3 linked regions of the Homo sapiens genome follow. The protein of the gene in region 1 purifies or fractionates together with the protein of each later gene. This does not show direct contact. Each region holds a gene or a part of one and is shown on either strand. Other genes may lie near its edges.

Region 1 (7,123 bases):
CTTGCTGCCCAGGCTGGAGTGCAATGGTGCAATCTCAGCTCACTGCAACCTCCACCTCCAGGGTTCAAGCGATTCTCCCACATCAGCCTCCCAAGTAGCTGGGATTACAGGCACGTGCCACCACGCCCAGCTAATTTTTTGTATTTTTTTTTTAGTAGAGACAGGGTTTCACCATGTTGGCCAGGCTGGTCTCGAACTCCTGACCTCAGGTGATCCACTTGCCTCAGCCTCCCAAAGTGCTGGGATTACAGGCATGAGCCACCGTGCCCAGCCTGGCTGTTTTCTTTGTATTTTAAAAATTATGGCCAGCGTTCTTTTGTGTGTATGTTGGGCAGGGGGAGAGGGGGATGGCAGTAAAAGTCACAGGAAGTGTAGTTGATGAACCTTTCTAATAAATCATTTTAATAATTTCAGCTGCTCAGTTAAACTAAATTTGGCCTGAGGCTGCCTGCATACTTTGAGTTCCCACAGAGCAAACTGCAAGCAAACTTAGTATGTAAACAAACTGCAACTTATCTTAGCAGTATATTCTCTTAAGACAGAGACTGGCTGAGACAAGTTGCTGAGTCTCAGCCAATCATGGCAGCCAAGCATCAGCCAATCACAGGCTACCGACTGATGAGCTCCTGTCCATACCCAACACCTGATCACATCACCCTCAAATAAATAAGGTGAACACCCAACTGTAACCAATCAGCTATTTCTGTAGGGCACTTCCTTTTTCTGTCTATAAATACTGCCTGACCAAATTGCTTGGGGGAGCCTCTGAACTGGTCCTGTTTTTGAGTGCTGCCAGATTCATTAATCACTATTTGCTCAGACAACTCTACTATTTATTTGTCTAAAGTTGTTTGTTGTTGTTTTGTTTTTTGTTTTTGTTTTTTTTACACAGGCAAGTAAACCTGAAGCCAAACAACACTGAATCTATAAACAACCAGGAGATGCTCGGTGCAGTGACTCATGCCTGTAATCCCAGCACTTTGAGAGGCCAAGGCAAGCAGATCACCTGAGGCCAGGAGTTGGAGATCAGCCTGGCCACCATGGCAAAACCATATCTCTACAAAAAATACAAAAAAAAATGAGCCAGGCATAGTGGCACCCACCTGTAATCCCAGCTACTTGGGAGGCTGAGACATGAGACTCGCTTGAACCCAGGAGGAGCGGGTTGCAGTGAGCCGAGATCACACCACTGCAATCCAGCCTAGGCAACAGAGAGAGACTGCCTCAAAAAAACAAAACAACAACAACAAAAAAAACAAAACAGGAGACTATTCAGTGTAATTTATTCATTCCTTTCTAAGAGACGGGATCGTGCTCTGTTGCCCAGGCTGGAGTGCAGTGGCGCGATCTCGACTCACTGCAAGCTCCACCTCCCAGGTTCACGCCATTCTCCTGCCTCAACCTCCCAAGTAGCTGGGACTACAGGCACCCACCACGACACCCAGCTAATTTTTTGTATTTTTAGTAGAGACGGGGTTTCACCGTGATAGCCAGGACGGTCTCGATCTCCTGACCTCGTGATCTGCCCGCCTCGGCCTCCCAAAGTGCTAGGATTACAGGTATGAGCCACTGTGCCTGGCCGGGATCTACTTTTTTCTTATTTAGGTCAGGATTGCAGGGACAGGGACAGAGTGAGAGGGACTTCATGACTGTGATGCTGTTTCAGTTACAAAGTGCATTTATACATAAGATTTCATTTGATCTTTGGTTATACGGTAAACAGAACTTATCTACCAGACGGGTGTAAAAGTTTGGAGCAGAATGTTTAAAAAATTGAGTAATCTCTACCTCTGGAAATGATTAATTAAAAGATATAAAATGCTCTCTCCAGCACTATGTAAGGGTGTCCCAGGGAGAAATGTCTTGATCCGAGAATGATGAAACCAAAGTTCTAGTTCTAGCTCTGCATTAAATATGTGTCCTTACGAGAATCCCTCAATTTCTTTGGATTTGAGTCTCCTCATCTGTCAAATGGAGGGGAGTGTGTGTGTGTGTGTGTGTGTGTGTGTGTGTGTGCACGCGCGCGTGCAGGAGGATACTCTAGACACACTGAGGAGTAGGGAGTTTGAACACCTTCCTCTGAAAATGCTTCCAAACTGGTAGGGAGAAAGAAAGGTGGAACATGATGAGAATGACCTCTGTTCCCCAAGCCCCCTTTCAGCTCAGACATTCTCTCATTTTAAATTTGGCCATGGAAATGACAATTTGAGGCACTCCAAGAACCTGGCTCTTTGCAGATGAGTGAAAGTTGTGCTAAGTAAGACACTGGAGAGGCTGTCTGAGAGGTGAGAGTGTGGCAGGGGCTGTCTGGCCATAATCAGAATGTGATTGTGGAGGAACAACCTGAACCAATGCCCCTCATGGCTGGAGGAGTCTGAAAAGAACATTACATGCTGGAGCTGTTTGCTGATCTCTCCGTCCAGGTGTTAGCCAAAGTCAGATGCTCTGGCCACAGCCTCGGGTGGACAAGAGGCGCACTCATGACTCTTAACAACAGCACCTACCCTCAAGCCAGCAAATGGAGGAGCCAGGATTTGAGCCCAGGTCTGTCTGACCCAGAACCTGTGTTCTCAGCCATTCTGCTGTATTATTCTACTAGTCAGCAAAGAGCTCCATAAGAAGCATCCATTTGTCCAAAGGACCATTCTGTATCCCAGGAGAGAAACCATTGCCCAGCGATTTGCCTTTCCGGTACCTGAGCTCCCTATGATGGCCAGCATCTGCCCACTTCTCACTTTGAAGCTTAGGTTCTGGATGCCCAGCTCACAAGAATTCTGGCAGCTGGGAGATGTCCAGGGCATCTTGAACTGAGCCAGCTGCTCAAACCAAGGGACCTGAGAGGCCAGGTCCACCTGTGGGGAGATATCAGAAGGTTCCTTAGAGAGCTGAATGGTTCAGAGGGCTTCAGCAACTTCTGTTCAGCATCTTCGTTCCCCAGGTGGCCCCTCTCCACAGAGGATATGTCCTCACCTACACACAATAGGCCCCAACCCAGGTTCTACCAAACACGGAAGCAGGACCCATGCTGAGAACCTGTAGCTGCTGTTTCTAGGTCTGAAGATAAGAAGAATGAAAAGCATGTACAGGCCAGGCATGGTGGCTCATGCCTGTAATCTCAGCACTTTGGAAGGCTGAGGCAGGTGGATCACCTGAGGTCAGGAGTTTGAGACCAGCCTGGCCAACATGGTAAAACCCCGCCTCTACTAAAAATACAAAAATTAGCCAGGCATGGTGGTGGTTGCCTGTAATCCCAGCTACTTGGGAGGCTGAGGCAGGAGAATCACTTGAATTTGGGAGGCAGAGATTGCAGTCAGCCAAGATTGCACCACTGCATCCCAGCCTGGGTGACAGAATGAGACTCCATCTCAAAAAAAAAAGTAAGGAAAAAAGAAAATCATGTGCAATAGTGGTACAGAAATAAAAATAAAACACGAAGCAAAATGTCTTCACTTGATACTAGTAATTTACTAATAATTTATCAGATGTTTACTATGTGCAAGACATTGTGTTAATCACTTAACATCCATCACCTTATTCAATCCTCACTGCAAATCTATAACATAGATATGCTCAGAATCCTTGTTTTACAGATGAGGCTCAGGGCAGTTAAGCAACTTGCTCAAGGTCACACAGCTGGTAAGTGGCAGAGCAGAGAAAGGCTCATTGGCTTGTCCCAACTCACACCCACAGGAAGCCAGACTCAGGCCTCTGAAGTTCACCATCCCAGACCCCACCATGTCCCATCTGGGTCCCTGGGGAGCTGTGGGAATATGGATCCTTGAATCTGACCAGGGGGTTCCTGGGTGCCTCTGAAAGGTCAGTCATTGTCTTTGCACTCTGGATGTTTTATAAGCTCCAGGGATAGTACATTTTACAAAAAAAAAATTATATATATATATATATATATACACACACACACACACACATATATATATAACTAATGAAATCTGAATAAAGTCTGTAGTTAATAGCATTGTACATTGTTCATTTCTTAGTGTTCATAATTATACTATGGGTATGCAAGATGTTAACATTAGGGGAAGCTGGACAATGGGTATATGGAAACACTGTGTTATTTTTGCAATTTTTTCCAAAATCTAAAGTTATTTCAAAATATAGTTTAAAAAGAGTCCCAGAGACATTTTTCTATAGGTTCACGCATTTTGTTTTATGTTTATACAACAGTTTTATTCTCTTTTCAAGCCTCTCAACCTCCAGCTCTGATATATGCCATTGATGACACCTATTGCACCTGACACGTGAGGCATCAATGTGGACTGGACTCTGTCCTTGCGGGCAGAGGGCCTGCAAGTTGGGCCCACCCTTTTATTTCCACCCGGGGAATTTCCTGGCTGTCCCTGCCTGCTCCTCTCCCCTTGAACCCAGGCGTGCCTCTACCTGGTAGTTGAGGTCTCTGACCTCCAGGGTGTTGGGCTGGCCACTGTAGGTGAAGTACAGGCTGTTGTCACTTTCAGAGGAGAACAATCTATCCTGGAGGCCCTGTGGGAGACAGGAGAGATGAGGGGCTCCTTTAGAAGCTGCTGAGAACATAGGAGAAGACAAGAAGGAAACCAACAGGTGAGAGCAACTTCTTAGAGCCGACGTGGTTAAATCTCAAATTGGCAACAGATGGGATTGCACAGGTGGAACCTCAGGGCTTTGGGAAAATAGGAGTGCTGACAAGGGCCCATCTCCTCTTCCCTTCAGAGAGAGGTTTGGGGCTTCTCCCGGGGCACCTTCCCAGAGAACCTCAACCTCAGGCTGGTGGAGCCTGAAGCCAAGCAGCTTCTGGTAAAGAGACCCAGACTCTGGACCGGAGAGAGTTCTATAAAAAAACCTCTGTGCTCTGAGAAGACCTGACTGGAGTGGGCAAACTCTTTGCCTTTAACTTTCTCTTCCCTGCAGCTGGCTTAATATCTCCTGAGGCCAAACAGACATGACACTTGCAGCATGTGAGAGGGAAGCAGCTGTTGAGAGTTAATGCCCAATATTCATGAAGATACCACCCTGAGAAAAATTCTAACCAACATCTTAGTCCTCACTAACATCTGGCATACTTCTCCTCATATCTGATTTTGATGAAGAGTTCATGCAACAAAGTGATGGAAAATGCTGCTGGGAGCTTTGAGAGGAAGTCCCTCTCATCATCATCATCATGTTGTTGTTATTGTCGAAGTGGTGGTATATTTGAATGTACATTAAAAAATCAATGTTTCATGGTGTCGGCTGATACCTTTGAATGGTATTAACCATCTGCAGATCTCAATTCCTCCTATTTTGACAATTCAATCATTTAAACCATTGAGGCCCAAACAAAGAAGCAACAGGAAGTCCCCCATCATTTCTTTTTCTTTGGATTGGGTCTCGCTCTATCACCCAGGATGGAGTGCAGTGACATGATCACAGCTCACTGCATCCTCAACCTCTCAGGCTCAAGCAATCCTCCCACCTCAGCCTCCCCACCACACCCAGCTAATTTTTGTATTTTTTGTAGAGACAGGGTTTCACCATGTTGGTCTCAAACTCCTGGGCTCAAGTGATCCACCCACCTCAGCATCCCAAAGTGCTGTGATTACAAGGGTGAACCACCTCGTCTGACCTCCATTTTTTACTGCATTCAATTTTTCTTACATTTCTGTCAGGCAGGAACAAGTACACTTTCATTAACAAGTTCCCATAGACTTTCCTCCTCAAGCTACCATTCTCACACTATACATTCCTTCAATCAACCATGCACCCAACAAACACTTATGGGGAGCCCAGAACACCCTTCAGGCTTGGAATTTGGGATGTGACAATGAAAAGGCCGTTGAAAAGCTTAGATTTTGGCAGATGAGACAGGTGATTACGATGGAGCGAGACAGACCAGGCAGAGAGGGAGGCTGACCTCAAGCATCTGACCAGGGTTTATTTTCACTATGTACACAATGCACGCACATGCTGTAGGTGAAACTAACATGACTTATGCCTTACGTGAAAATAACAAATAACATACAGCAGTCTTCTTGTCAAAGTACCCCTGCAATGATGGGGGCCAGAAGTTCTCGGAAAGAACATTCCAGGTCAGTGGAGGTGGAGGGAAAGAAATTCGGTGACAGTATGCCGCAGGCGTGCTGTGGGGAACCCTTAGAGTTCTGGGAGAGTATGAAAAACAGCAGACGAAAGTGACTTCCATTGCTTAATGTTTGAATTATCACCATAAAGACCCAAAATTATACAGAAAAAAATGGGAAAGATAAACACCTAATTCAGGAGAGGGGTTATCTCTGGGGAGCGGGGAGAGATGAAAGGAGAAAGGGGACACAGTAGGAGTGCGGGGATCAAGCTTCAAAGCTTTTGGTAATTGGTGGTGTGTACATGAGAGTTCTTTAAGCTGATTTGTGTACGATATTTCACAATATGTTGTCAAATTGAGAGAGCAAGCCAGTGAGTAGAACTCCAGAGTTCCATTCCCACCTCAACCCCAGTTGCCAAAGCCCCCAAGCAGGAGGGAGGTTGAGGGAGAGGAGGTAAGAAGGTCTGTGCCCCAAGCTCCTGAGGAGATTGAAAGCAGCTCGGACAGATGCTGGACTCCTGGCAGATCAGCCCTTCGGCCTTGCCCCTCACTCGCCCTCTCCGCTGTCACTGTGCACATTGCTTCATTGTCCCATTTTTGTTGTTGTTGTTGAATCATCAAAAAATCTTAGCCATTGCCAGCTGTGCGCAGTGGCTCATGCCTGTAATCCCAGCACTTTGGGAAGCTGAGGAGGGCAGATCACCTGAGGCCAGGAGTTCAAGACCAGCTTGGCCAAAACAGTGAAACCCTGTCTCTACTAAAAATACAAAAAAAAATTGCCGGGCATGGTGGCACACCCCTATAGTCCCAGCTACCCTACTCAAGAGGTTGAGGCAGGAGAATCACTTGAACCGGCAGGTGGAGGTGCAGGGAGCCGAGATCGTGCCTCTGCACTCCAGCCTGGGCCACAGCGTGAGACTCTGTCAAAAAAAAAAAAATCTTATCCATTTCTAAGAGACTCATGTGGGCTAACATGCATCTTGCTGTTGTTGTTTTTAAAACAAATATCTGCAGGAGGGATATTAGACAATGTAAATGAGCTGAGAAATTACTTCTGCTGGCCAAAAC
Region 2 (7,123 bases), on another chromosome or scaffold:
AAGGAAGTTAAGCAGATACGCTGGGGGCAAATGTGTCACAGTGCAATGTAGCTAATGAGGAAACAGCATTAGGTATGTCTCCCAAGAAAGTATTAGTTTGTGGACTAACTGTGGGAATCTGATGATGATGGGTAATGGCAACTAACATTTGAGTTACTATACCCCAGGCACTGTGCTAAACACTTTACATGGCATATCCTCACAGCTTTCCCATCTAGCAGGGAATATTAGGTACATTTTAGAGGAGAACATTAAGGTTGACTGAGCCAAAGTAGCACACCCAAGGTGTGATACAGCCTGCGTTCAAACCCAGGTTGTCCCATACTCTAGAGACTGTGATGTTAGGACAAAGTGTGATTTCAGAAGATTTGTAAAGAGAAGAAAGTTGTTAGAATCACTTCTCTAAAGCATGCTGATTTTGAGATTGCTAAAATTAGAAACTGTACCAGAATTTACATGACACTTTGTTTGGTTTTGAATTAAGTCATTATGAGGAAGTACATTAAAAAATGTTAAAAGGTTCTTCCTGGGAATTTGTAATGCATTCTTCAGTTCTAATAAATGTATTCTTATATGCTGGCCCCTCCCTCCTTTTAATGCCTTGAGATGATGAATAAGTGGAAGAATAAACATACTCTCCATAGAGCTTATCAAATGTTTACCTAGGTTCCCTTGGGCAACTGTAGGCAATAAAAACTATGTTGCATTGGCTCTTCACTGTCAGATGGTAATGGCTGATTGTTAACAAGGGTCAAAGTTTAATTGCTTTGGCAAGACCTTTAAACTACACTTTCTTATGTCTTGATATCCTGATTCTGCTGGCATTTTGTTCATTGAACTGTGACATGGAGATAGATATATACCTGAAATACTCAGGCTGTAAATTATCTGACAGCTAAAATCGTTACTGTTGATTTGGTGTAGATAGTTTGGAACAATGCTGTAATAATGTTACTGTGGAAAGGCACAAACCAAAAGCAGAAACAATCATTTCTAAAATCCTGAAATTTGTCTTAATGGAAATAGGGAACTCCTGCTATGGTTAGAATGTTTGTCCTTTATAAAACTCATGTTGAAACTGAATCCCCAATGTGGCCGTATTGAGAGATGGGGCCTTTAAGAGGTGATTGGGTCATGAGGGCTCTACCCTCATGAATGGATTAATCCATTCATGGATTAATGGATTAATGGGTTTTCATGGGAATGGGACTGGTGGCTTTATAAGAAGAGGCAGAGAGACGTGAGCCAGCATACTCAGCCCCCTCACCACGTGTGATGTCCTGGGCCACCTCAGGACTTTGCAGAAGGCCCTGACCAGCTACGGCCCCTTGACCTTGAACTTCTCAGCCTCCATGTATGTAAAAAAATTTCTTAAATTACCCAGTTTCAGGTATTCTGTTCTAAGCAACAGAAAACAGACTAAGACAGTTTCTCACCAAATTCTAGAATATTAAGATTTGTAGCTTGAAAGATAATCTTGGACAAGTGAAAGGATGTACAGCTTGGATCATCTTGGATCTCTGTTTTTATGGAATGATGAGGCTTTAAATATAAGTGTATTCATGCTGGACCCATGAGGATTTATTGAAGAAGGTTAGAAGTGTTTTAGGTAAATGACTAAATTTTAAAGGCTTTTTTTTTTTTTTTTTTTTTTTTTTTTTGAGACGAAGTCTTACTCTGTCGCCCAGGCTGGAGTGCAGTGGTGCGATCTTGGCTGACTGCAGCCTCTGTCTCCCGGGTTCAAGCGATCTTCCTGCCTCAGCCTCCCGAGTAGCTGGGACTACAGGCGTGCGCCACCATGCCCAGCTAATTTTCGTATTTTTTTAACAGAGACAGGGTTTCACCATATTGGCCAGGCTGGTCTCGAACTCCTGACCTCTTGATCCATCTGCCTTGGTCTCCCAAAGTGCTAGGATTACAGGCGTGAGCCACCGCGCCCAGCAAAGGCTATTGTATTAAATAGGCATTAGCCTATTCTGTAAACTGCACCTTTGTACCAAGGTCAGACAGGATTTTTAGTTTGGTAAGTCATTTAATCTGACCAAAGAGGGCTCGTCTAAAACAAGTTTAAATCAGTACTTCCTACCATTAAGTTTTTATTCCGGTAAATTAATTGATTATTTAATCAAGTCCTATGTTATACAAATTACCTTTACTTTTTTTTTAAACCCTATTAGAAAAACTAATTGGCTAATACTTATTTTGCTCATATTTATCTTAGGCATTACAGGGACTGGAACAGAAAGCTTTGTCCATGCTTATAGAATTTATAATCTTAAATATCTATTTAGGTTGTTGTTTTTCATCTGAGAGGTGATAGTATAAAACTGAGACACCTGTAGAGTGGGGGAAGTACCGCAAAAAAGTCAAACGCCTTTTAAATAAATGCCTTTAGAAATAGCTTTGGAACGTGGCACCTTCACTAACCATCATTCATTCATATGAAATACTTCACACATATAAATTGTAGTTGAAAGCCATATGTAACCTTTAAAACTTATCCTGCCTTTAAAAATAAAACTTATCAGCCAGGTGCGGTGGCTCATGCCTGTAATCCCAGCACTTTGGGACGCCAAGGGTGGCAGATCACCCTCCTGACTAACACGGTGAAACCCCGTCTCTACTAAAAATACAAAAAATTAGCCAGATGTGGTGGTGGGCACTTGTAGTCCCAGCTACTCGGGAGGCTGAGGCAGGAGCATGGCGTGAACCCGGGAGGCGGAGCTTGTAGTGAGCGGCGATCGAGCCACTGCACTCCAGCCTGGGCGACAGAGCGAGACTCCATCTCAAAATAAATAAATAAATAAAACTTATCACGCTTATGTCTGTGAATGTATATAATTAAGGAAAATTTGCTTTGTTAAATATAACACTACTATTTGAGCACCTACTTTGTGCTTATATTGTTGATAAATGATGAAAAGACAGTGAAAAATCCCTATTCTTACAGAACTTACTTTCCGGTGAAGCAAGACACACAAAAATAAACAAGAAAAATGATCAGAGTGATGTGTTATGCAGAGAATTAAAGGGTGATGTGATAAAGTGATTGGGTCGTGCTTTATGTTGGCAAAAAAAATCTGGAGTATAAGAAGTTGCTGACTTGGGTGATTTGGAAGAGATTGGGAGACTGGGGGGATTCAGAACTGAAGGAACAGGCTGTAGGCTGTAAGGCAAAAATATACTTGCTATGTTCAAATTACTAAGAGGTTTATACCGTCATGCTTTTGTTTAAAAAATAAAACTTTATAATGAGGTATTTCAAGTGTGGTTCTCCCTTGTCACAAATCTTGTACATACTTTGTGTTTTCCAGCACATCCTACACATTCGAGGTGGTAATATGATACTTTTAAACCGGAACCTGCATCTGATATCCTGGAATTTGTTTCTCTACTTCCTGTATTTCTCCTATCATGAATGACTGCTCTGACAAAGAATATGTCATGGGACACACCTTCAGCTAACTTTGCTTTTTCATGCTTGTTTTCAATTCACTAGAAGAAAATCTAACTTGTCAGGAAGCAAGTACATAATAGGAAGTGTCTGTCTTAGTTTGTCTTCAACAGTTAAGAAAATGAATGTTTCCACTCTTACTACATTCTTAGTCACCTGTCCACTGACCAAGAGCCTTGTGGCCCTGAGTAATCATTTAGAACTTGGAATCAGCAGGGGCGCTCTCTCTAGTTGCAGTTTAGGGAATGGGTTATTAGCTTTCTAGGATATTTATCATGCTTTGAAATAATTTAATGAATTTTATTCCATAAGATCCAATTCAGGTTAGGCTTGTTTGATTTTTTTTTTCAGAAAATGTATTCCATAAAGTTTGTACTTAGACCAGACGGGTGTACTAAGAATCATTCATGAGTAAATGTGTGTTGAATATCTACCCTTGACCTTTTTTTGAGAAATAGAGTAAACACAGTCCCTGTAGTCTGACAGCTAATGGGGAGAGAGGGTAGACTTTTCATCGAATTAAATTTCTACATGCACCTTTCCCCCAGAAATCTTACTCATGGCTGGTCTCAAGTAAGTCTTTATTGAAAAATATTGACATATCTTCTTCCTCTTCCTTCTCCTCACTGTCTTCCTTTTAGTAGTTAGGCAGAGTTAATAGGTAAGAAAAATTATCTGCATTTATGTGTAGTTTGTAATCTACTAAAGGGGTTCTAGAATAAATGTTGACATTTTGTAACTTACATTGTTGTTGCTACTGATTAAACACATAACCCAAGTGTGGATGAACTCTAGCATTACAAAGCTTAAGCACCTCAGGCTCCTATGATGTTGTAATGGACTCTTTTTACAATTAGAGTAGGGTGGGGTAACAGAGGGTCTCAAAGAAAATGCATATTTAAATTTCAGGCTTCTCAGATAACCTCTGGAGCCCTACTGTCTGGAAACAGCCAGTTTCCATGCTGTTACAATAATTTGGCAATGGCAATTGGTTAATCTCCAGTTTCTTTGCCACCTGAAATTTTGAGTTGTTCAGCCAGTAGATATTGGATTAAATAGAACAACTTTGTTAAGCTGGTTTAATAATGATTATGAAAAACCAAATAGAGAAAAGGTGAAAATAAGGCAGAATTGAGGAGCATGACCTTTGGCATATCATCAGAGTAATAGCAGTAAAAAGGATTAAAATATTTCTAATTTAAGAATAATGGCAATAATAATAGTGATGTTGATGGCAAAAGTGGCTTGTCAGAACTTTAAACTCTTAGCCAGGCTTGGTGGCACATGCCTGTAATCCTAGCTACAAGTAAGACTGAGATGAGAGGATCCCCTGAGGGAAGGAGTCTGAGGCCAGCCTGGGCAACATAGCAAGACCCTGTCTTAAAAAAAAAAAATAGAATTTTCTCATTAGTATAGTGGTGAGTTAAAAAAACACACATAAAACTTTACACCCCAATTTAAGTAGGACTTTAAAAAAAACTTGTCTCCTTGAAAAGTAATATTTATGAGAAAAGGAACATAATGTACATTGAAAGAATTGTGTTAGATAATCAGAAAACATGTACAGGATGAGTCAAAGCCACACAGACCTGAGAAAAGTGGTAAGTGGGAGAGATTGGCAGAGGTGCCTAAAATATTTAGGATGGAAGAGGTGTCTGTTTTTGGTTGGTTAAGGACACATCCAGGAATGAATTCATTGGTGAGAGAACATTAAAGCCTCAATTTCAGACATAATTTTAACTATTATTCTAATTATGCAAGTAATATATTTTAAAGAAGACACTAAAAGTATTTTAAAAAGCAAACTGGTATCACCCATAATTCTACCACCCAGAGACAACCAATATCAACATTTTGGTTTGTTTCCAATATGTGATATATGTGTTTTTTCCCCTATCACACCACAAGCATATTATTAAATGATGCTTTAAGAAAATATTTCAGGGCTGAATGCAGACACACCTCTGAATACCAGGGCTTTTTCATTTTCATTTTTGCAGCCACAATTTCATTACAACATCTCGATGAATTACCTTTTACACAAATCTGTGTTTCTGACTAACTTTCTAAAGGATAGATTCCTGGAAGTGGAATAAGTAGGTATAAAGGCATCAATGCTGAGGCAGATATGTATTGCCAGATTGTTTCCAAAAAAATGATTCTCTATTAGTTTGTGCTTCCGCCCATCTGAGGGCCCTTCTCTCTGCACCCTCACACATCTTTGAATACTCCTTAACTTTATTGCTGATCAGTTTGTTAGGTAGAAAATGATAGTATTTAATAGCTTCAGAAATTCTTGGTAAGAGTAGCTTTAATTTCTGAAAGAGGATTTGGAGTCTTTGGAATGGCCTTTTTTCCTTGAGAGTTGGTAGGAGAGTAAATGATATATTCAGGTAGTGGACTTACATAAGAAGTAGTTGTGTTTAGTGACGTAAACTGTTCTATCAGATTAAGTCAGAGGTGAAAGCATGGTTGAATTAGAGAATATACATTATGGCAAGTAGAATGCTAAACGATTTAAGATGATTTTAAGACACTTGTAATGGCATAAGGGTGAAGTTTGGGGAAGCTTTCAGAAATCCACTGTGTGGAATTACCAACGATTCTTCCCAGGAGAGAAAAGAGGTATATGAAAAATAATATGACAGTACAGGAAACTCTGGATTTAATGTTAAAAAGATATATGCATAAGATGGATTCCTGCCTATTTTTTCCCTCTGCTTTTAAAACCTGCTTTCTTACAAAGTCTAGAGTACAGCATTTTTTGCTCAGTCTTTTACTTCTTGACTTTTTTCCTTTCTCTCAACACTCCAGTCACTTCTACTTTACTAATTGATTCTTTGGCAAAAATCACTCCGAAGGGAGCAGTTCACACAGGCAAGCAAGAATTTGTCAGGCACTGTGCTTTTAGGTGAATAAAGTCCAGATGGTGCCTTGTCTTTACATTGTTTTGATTCTTGCCAGTTCTAGATGGGAATCATCATCAATGGCTACTACATACCACTGCAAGAAAATCACTTCTATTCTTTGCTTCAGCTTCGCCCAAAATGTCCTGTGGGATGCTTTCGCCTTTGTATTTCTAAATCTCCATGTAGGTATACTTTTGGCAACAGAGCTACTTTATCTCCCCACTTGTAGCAAATCTGTTTCATTTTTAATATTGCCACATTCCAATGGCAGGTTACACCGTGGTTGATGAAAAGGAATTTAATAGTTTTACAGATTTTAACTTTTTTTTTTTTAATTTTTTGAGACTGAGTTTTGCTCTTGTTGCCCAGGCTGGAGTGCAGTGGCGCAATCTCGGCTCACTGCAACCTCTGCCTTCCAGGTTCAAGCGATTCTCCTGCCTCAGCGTTTCTGAGTAGCTGGGATTACAGGCATGTGCCACCACGCCCGGCTAATTTTGTATTTTTAGTAGAGACGGGGTTTCTGCATGTTGGTCAGGCCGGTCTCGAATTCATGACCTCAGATGATCTGCCGGCCTTGGCCTCCCAAAGTGCTGGGATTACTGGTGTGAGCTACTGCGCCTGGCCCAGATTTTAACATTTTATCTACTTGTCTCTTTCATAGAATATTTGAAAATTACCCCCCCAAAAACTAGTTTCTAAGCTATGGAAAAAGCAATCTCATATAAGAATGAAATCTCTTTAAGATATTTCACATTTGTGC
Region 3 (3,855 bases), on another chromosome or scaffold:
TGCCACCAGCTGTATGGCCTCCTCTTGGTTCCTTTCTCTGTAACCTGGGGAGTGCAGTAGCACCTGCCCAGTGGGGCTCTTGAGCCCAGGAACTGCTACACTCTGAACCCCACTCGTACTAGGGGCTCAGTAACAAGCAGCCGCCAGTGTGGTTCCTATATCCCGGGACTTCGCCTGTCTCCTGCGGATCACAGCCAGTGACTACTGTGCTCTTGGAGAAAGGTCCAGCCTCCAGCTTCCCAGGCTTCATTTGCATCCATCTCGCAGGCCCCAGCTCAGGCTCGTGCCCACCCACCAAGTTCCAGTGCCGCACCAGTGGCTTATGCGTGCCCCTCACCTGGCGCTGCGACAGGGACTTGGACTGCAGCGATGGCAGCGATGAGGAGGAGTGCAGTGAGTGGCCACGCCCCTTGGCGGGGCTTACAGGGGGCGGGGCCTGAGGGTGGTTTGTCAGGGGCCAGGCACGCGGAGGTGGAGCTTGTGGGAAAGGCAGGGCCGCAGGGATGGGTGCGACTTGGGTCTGTGGGTCATAAGAAGCGGGGTCTAAGATGGGCTTGGGCTGGGCGCAGTGGCTCACGCCTGCAATCCCAGCACTTTGGGAGGCTAGGGTGGGAGGATCGATCACTTGATCCTGGGAGGTTGCCGCTGCAGTGAGCTAGGATTGTGCCAGTGCACTCCAGCCTGGGCAACAGAGTAAGACTGTCTCAGGAAAAAAAAAGAAAAAGAAAAAAAAAAGAAAAATGAAAGAAAGGAAAGAAAGGAAGGAAAGAGAGAGGGAGGGAGCCAGGTACGGTGGCTCACACATGTAATCCCAGCACTTTGGGAGGCCAAGGCAGGCGGATCACTTGAGGTCAGGCGTTCGAGACCAGCCTGGCCAACACAGTGAAACCCCATCTCTACTAAAAATACAAAAGTTAGCTGGATGTGGCGGCAGGCCCCTGTAATCCCAGCTAGTCAGGAGGCTAAGGCAGGAGAATCACTTGACCCTGGGAGGCAGAGGTTTCAGTGAGTCGAGATTGCGCCACTGCACTGCAGCCTGGGCAGCAAAGGGAGACCCCGTCTCAAAAGAAAAAATAAAGAAAGAAACAAACAAACAAATAGAATAAAGTGGGCTTGTAGGAAGGTAGAGCTAGTGGGGTCTCAGGGGAAGAGCTTGCAGGGAGGCCTGTCCTTAGAAAGTGGAGTTAACAGTTGCAGGGGGCGGAGCCTTAGGAAGGGAGCATTTTTTTGGGCTCAGCTGTTCTTAGAGGGTGGGGCTTGCAGGGGATGGGGTTTCAGGGAGTACCTGGGCCTTCTTGGGTGGGCATTTGGGACCTGACCAACCCTGTGCCCCAGGGATTGAGCCATGTACCCAGAAAGGGCAATGCCCACCGCCCCCTGGCCTCCCCTGCCCCTGCACCGGCGTCAGTGACTGCTCTGGGGGAACTGACAAGAAACTGCGCAACTGCAGCCGCCTGGCCTGCCTAGCAGGCGAGCTCCGTTGCACGCTGAGCGATGACTGCATTCCACTCACGTGGCGCTGCGACGGCCACCCAGACTGTCCCGACTCCAGCGACGAGCTCGGCTGTGGTATGCACCTGCGGGGCTGGGGTGGACTCGTGGGTAGATGGGGACACCCACTGCCTGCTGGGGCGTGGCCAGGCTGGGGGCGTGGACACATGCCTTTGCCCGTGCCTGCATCCCTGTGGGGGAATCAAGACATCATTAGGGGCCGGGCCCGGTGGCTCACGCCTGTAATCCCAGCACTTTGGGAGGCTGAGGTGGGCGGATCATCTGAGGTCAGGATTTCGAGACCTGCCTGGCAAACACTGCGAAACCCCGTCTCTACTAAAAGTACAAAAAAATTTGCTGGGCATGGTGGCACACACCTGTAATCCGAGCTACTCAGGAGGCTGAGTCAGGAGAACCGCTTGAACCTGGGAGGCAGAGGTTGCAGTGAGCTGAGATTGGGCCACTGCACACCAGTCTGGGTGACAGCAAAACTCTGTCTCAAAAAAATTTAAAAAAGGCCGGGCACGGTGGCTAACGCCTGTAATCCTAGCACTTTGGGAGGCCGAGGCAGGCAGATCACCTGAGGTGAGGTGTTCGAGACCAGTCTGGCCAACATGGCGAAATCCTGTCTCTACTAAAAATACAAAAGTTAGCTAGGCGTGGTGGCGTGCACCTGTAATCCCAGCTACTCGGGAGGCTAAGACAGGATAATTGTTTGAACTCAGGAGGCAGAGGTTTCACTGAGCCAATATTGCGCCACTGCACTCCAGCCTGGGTGGCAGAGCCAGACTCCCTCTCCAAAAAAAAAAAAAAAAAAAGACATAATTACGGGCAGTCAGCTTCACCCAGCCTGGTTGGTTGAGGATAAACCCCAAGGGCTCCCCTGGGCATCTGGCCCCCTCACGCCTTCAGTGCTCTCTCCTCAACTACTGAACGCCTGGGCTTATTGCAGGAACCAATGAGATCCTCCCGGAAGGGGATGCCACAACCATGGGGCCCCCTGTGACCCTGGAGAGTGTCACCTCTCTCAGGAATGCCACAACCATGGGGCCCCCTGTGACCCTGGAGAGTGTCCCCTCTGTCGGGAATGCCACATCCTCCTCTGCCGGAGACCAGTCTGGAAGCCCAACTGCCTATGGGGTTATTGCAGCTGCTGGTAAGAGGGACTTACCCTCCCATGCTGGGGGCTTAGAGCTCCGGGGATTCAGGGGAGGTGGGTGGGGAGGGATGAGCTGCAGAACTCCCATCCCCATGTGTATGGAGCTTGGTGGGTGTGGGGGCTCTTGCCTTCCCCCTCCTTACTCCTCTGTCCATCTGTTCCCCACAGCGGTGCTCAGTGCAAGCCTGGTCACCGCCACCCTCCTCCTTTTGTCCTGGCTCCGAGCCCAGGAGCGCCTCCGCCCACTGGGGTTACTGGTGGCCATGAAGGAGTCCCTGCTGCTGTCAGAACAGAAGACCTCGCTGCCCTGAGGACAAGCACTTGCCACCACCGTCACTCAGCCCTGGGCGTAGCCGGACAGGAGGAGAGCAGTGATGCGGATGGGTACCCGGGCACACCAGCCCTCAGAGACCTGAGCTCTTCTGGCCACGTGGAACCTCGAACCCGAGCTCCTGCAGAAGTGGCCCTGGAGATTGAGGGTCCCTGGACACTCCCTATGGAGATCCGGGGAGCTAGGATGGGGAACCTGCCACAGCCAGAACTGAGGGGCTGGCCCCAGGCAGCTCCCAGGGGGTAGAACGGCCCTGTGCTTAAGACACTCCTGCTGCCCCGTCTGAGGGTGGCAATTAAAGTTGCTTCACATCCTCCGCCTGCCTCTGGGTCTCTGTCTCCCTTGGCCTGGGCAGCCTGGGGTCGCTGCTGCAGCCCCTCCTCCATGAGAGCCCAGCCCATAGAAGGTGGGACATGGACACCCAGCCCTGTGTGCAGCTACTGTGCTGCTTGCTTTTTGGGAGCAGGGGCAGCAGGGCTGGGGTGGGGAGTCTGCGTTAACATCAGGATTCTTGGAAGAAGAGCAGAGCTTGGGCAGTGCCTTCCCATTCCCAGGTCTGGGGACCCCCACCCACTGTGGCTTCCTCCTCAGTGCAGTGGAAGCCAGGTTTCCTGGGATGGTCTCAGACTCACCCTGTTTTAATTATTTTTTAATTATGTTTTTAGAGACTGCGTTTTGGCCGGGCACAGTGGCTCACACCTGTAATCCCAGCACTTTGGGAGGCCGAGAGGTGGGCGGATCACCTGAGGTCAGGAGTTCGAGACCAGCCTGGCCAATATGGTGAAACCCTGTCTCTACCAAAAATACAAAAAATTGGTTGGGTGTGGTGGCAGGCGTCTGTAATCCCAGCTACTCGGGAGGCTGAGACAGGAGA

Evidence for each region.
Region 2: the proteins of ABCG8 (region 1) and TSPAN3 purify together in Homo sapiens (affinity purification with mass spectrometry; 2 studies listed by BioGRID and IntAct, with this or other methods). This does not show direct contact.
Region 3: the proteins of ABCG8 (region 1) and CD320 purify together in Homo sapiens (affinity purification with mass spectrometry; 2 studies listed by BioGRID and IntAct, with this or other methods). This does not show direct contact.

The regions. Positions count from the first base shown.
Region 1 is NC_000002.12:43,841,884-43,849,006, reverse strand, and holds part of ABCG8 (ATP-binding cassette sub-family G member 8), read right to left. Parts: intron 5,221-7,123; exon of another isoform or gene 4,906-5,220; intron 4,579-4,905; exon of another isoform or gene 4,501-4,578; coding exon 4,399-4,500; intron 2,853-4,398; coding exon 2,696-2,852; intron 1-2,695. UniProt on the Homo sapiens protein: ABCG5 and ABCG8 form an obligate heterodimer that mediates Mg(2+)- and ATP-dependent sterol transport across the cell membrane.
Region 2 is NC_000015.10:77,061,110-77,068,232, reverse strand, and holds part of TSPAN3 (tetraspanin-3), read left to right. Parts: intron 1-7,123. UniProt on the Homo sapiens protein: Regulates the proliferation and migration of oligodendrocytes, a process essential for normal myelination and repair.
Region 3 is NC_000019.10:8,301,569-8,305,423, reverse strand, and holds the end of CD320 (CD320 antigen isoform 1 precursor), read left to right. Parts: intron 1-267; coding exon 268-393; intron 394-1,335; coding exon 1,336-1,569; intron 1,570-2,443; coding exon 2,444-2,647; intron 2,648-2,818; coding exon 2,819-2,961; 3' UTR 2,962-3,297; downstream 3,298-3,855. UniProt on the Homo sapiens protein: Receptor for transcobalamin saturated with cobalamin (TCbl). Plays an important role in cobalamin uptake. Plasma membrane protein that is expressed on follicular dendritic cells (FDC) and mediates interaction with germinal center B cells.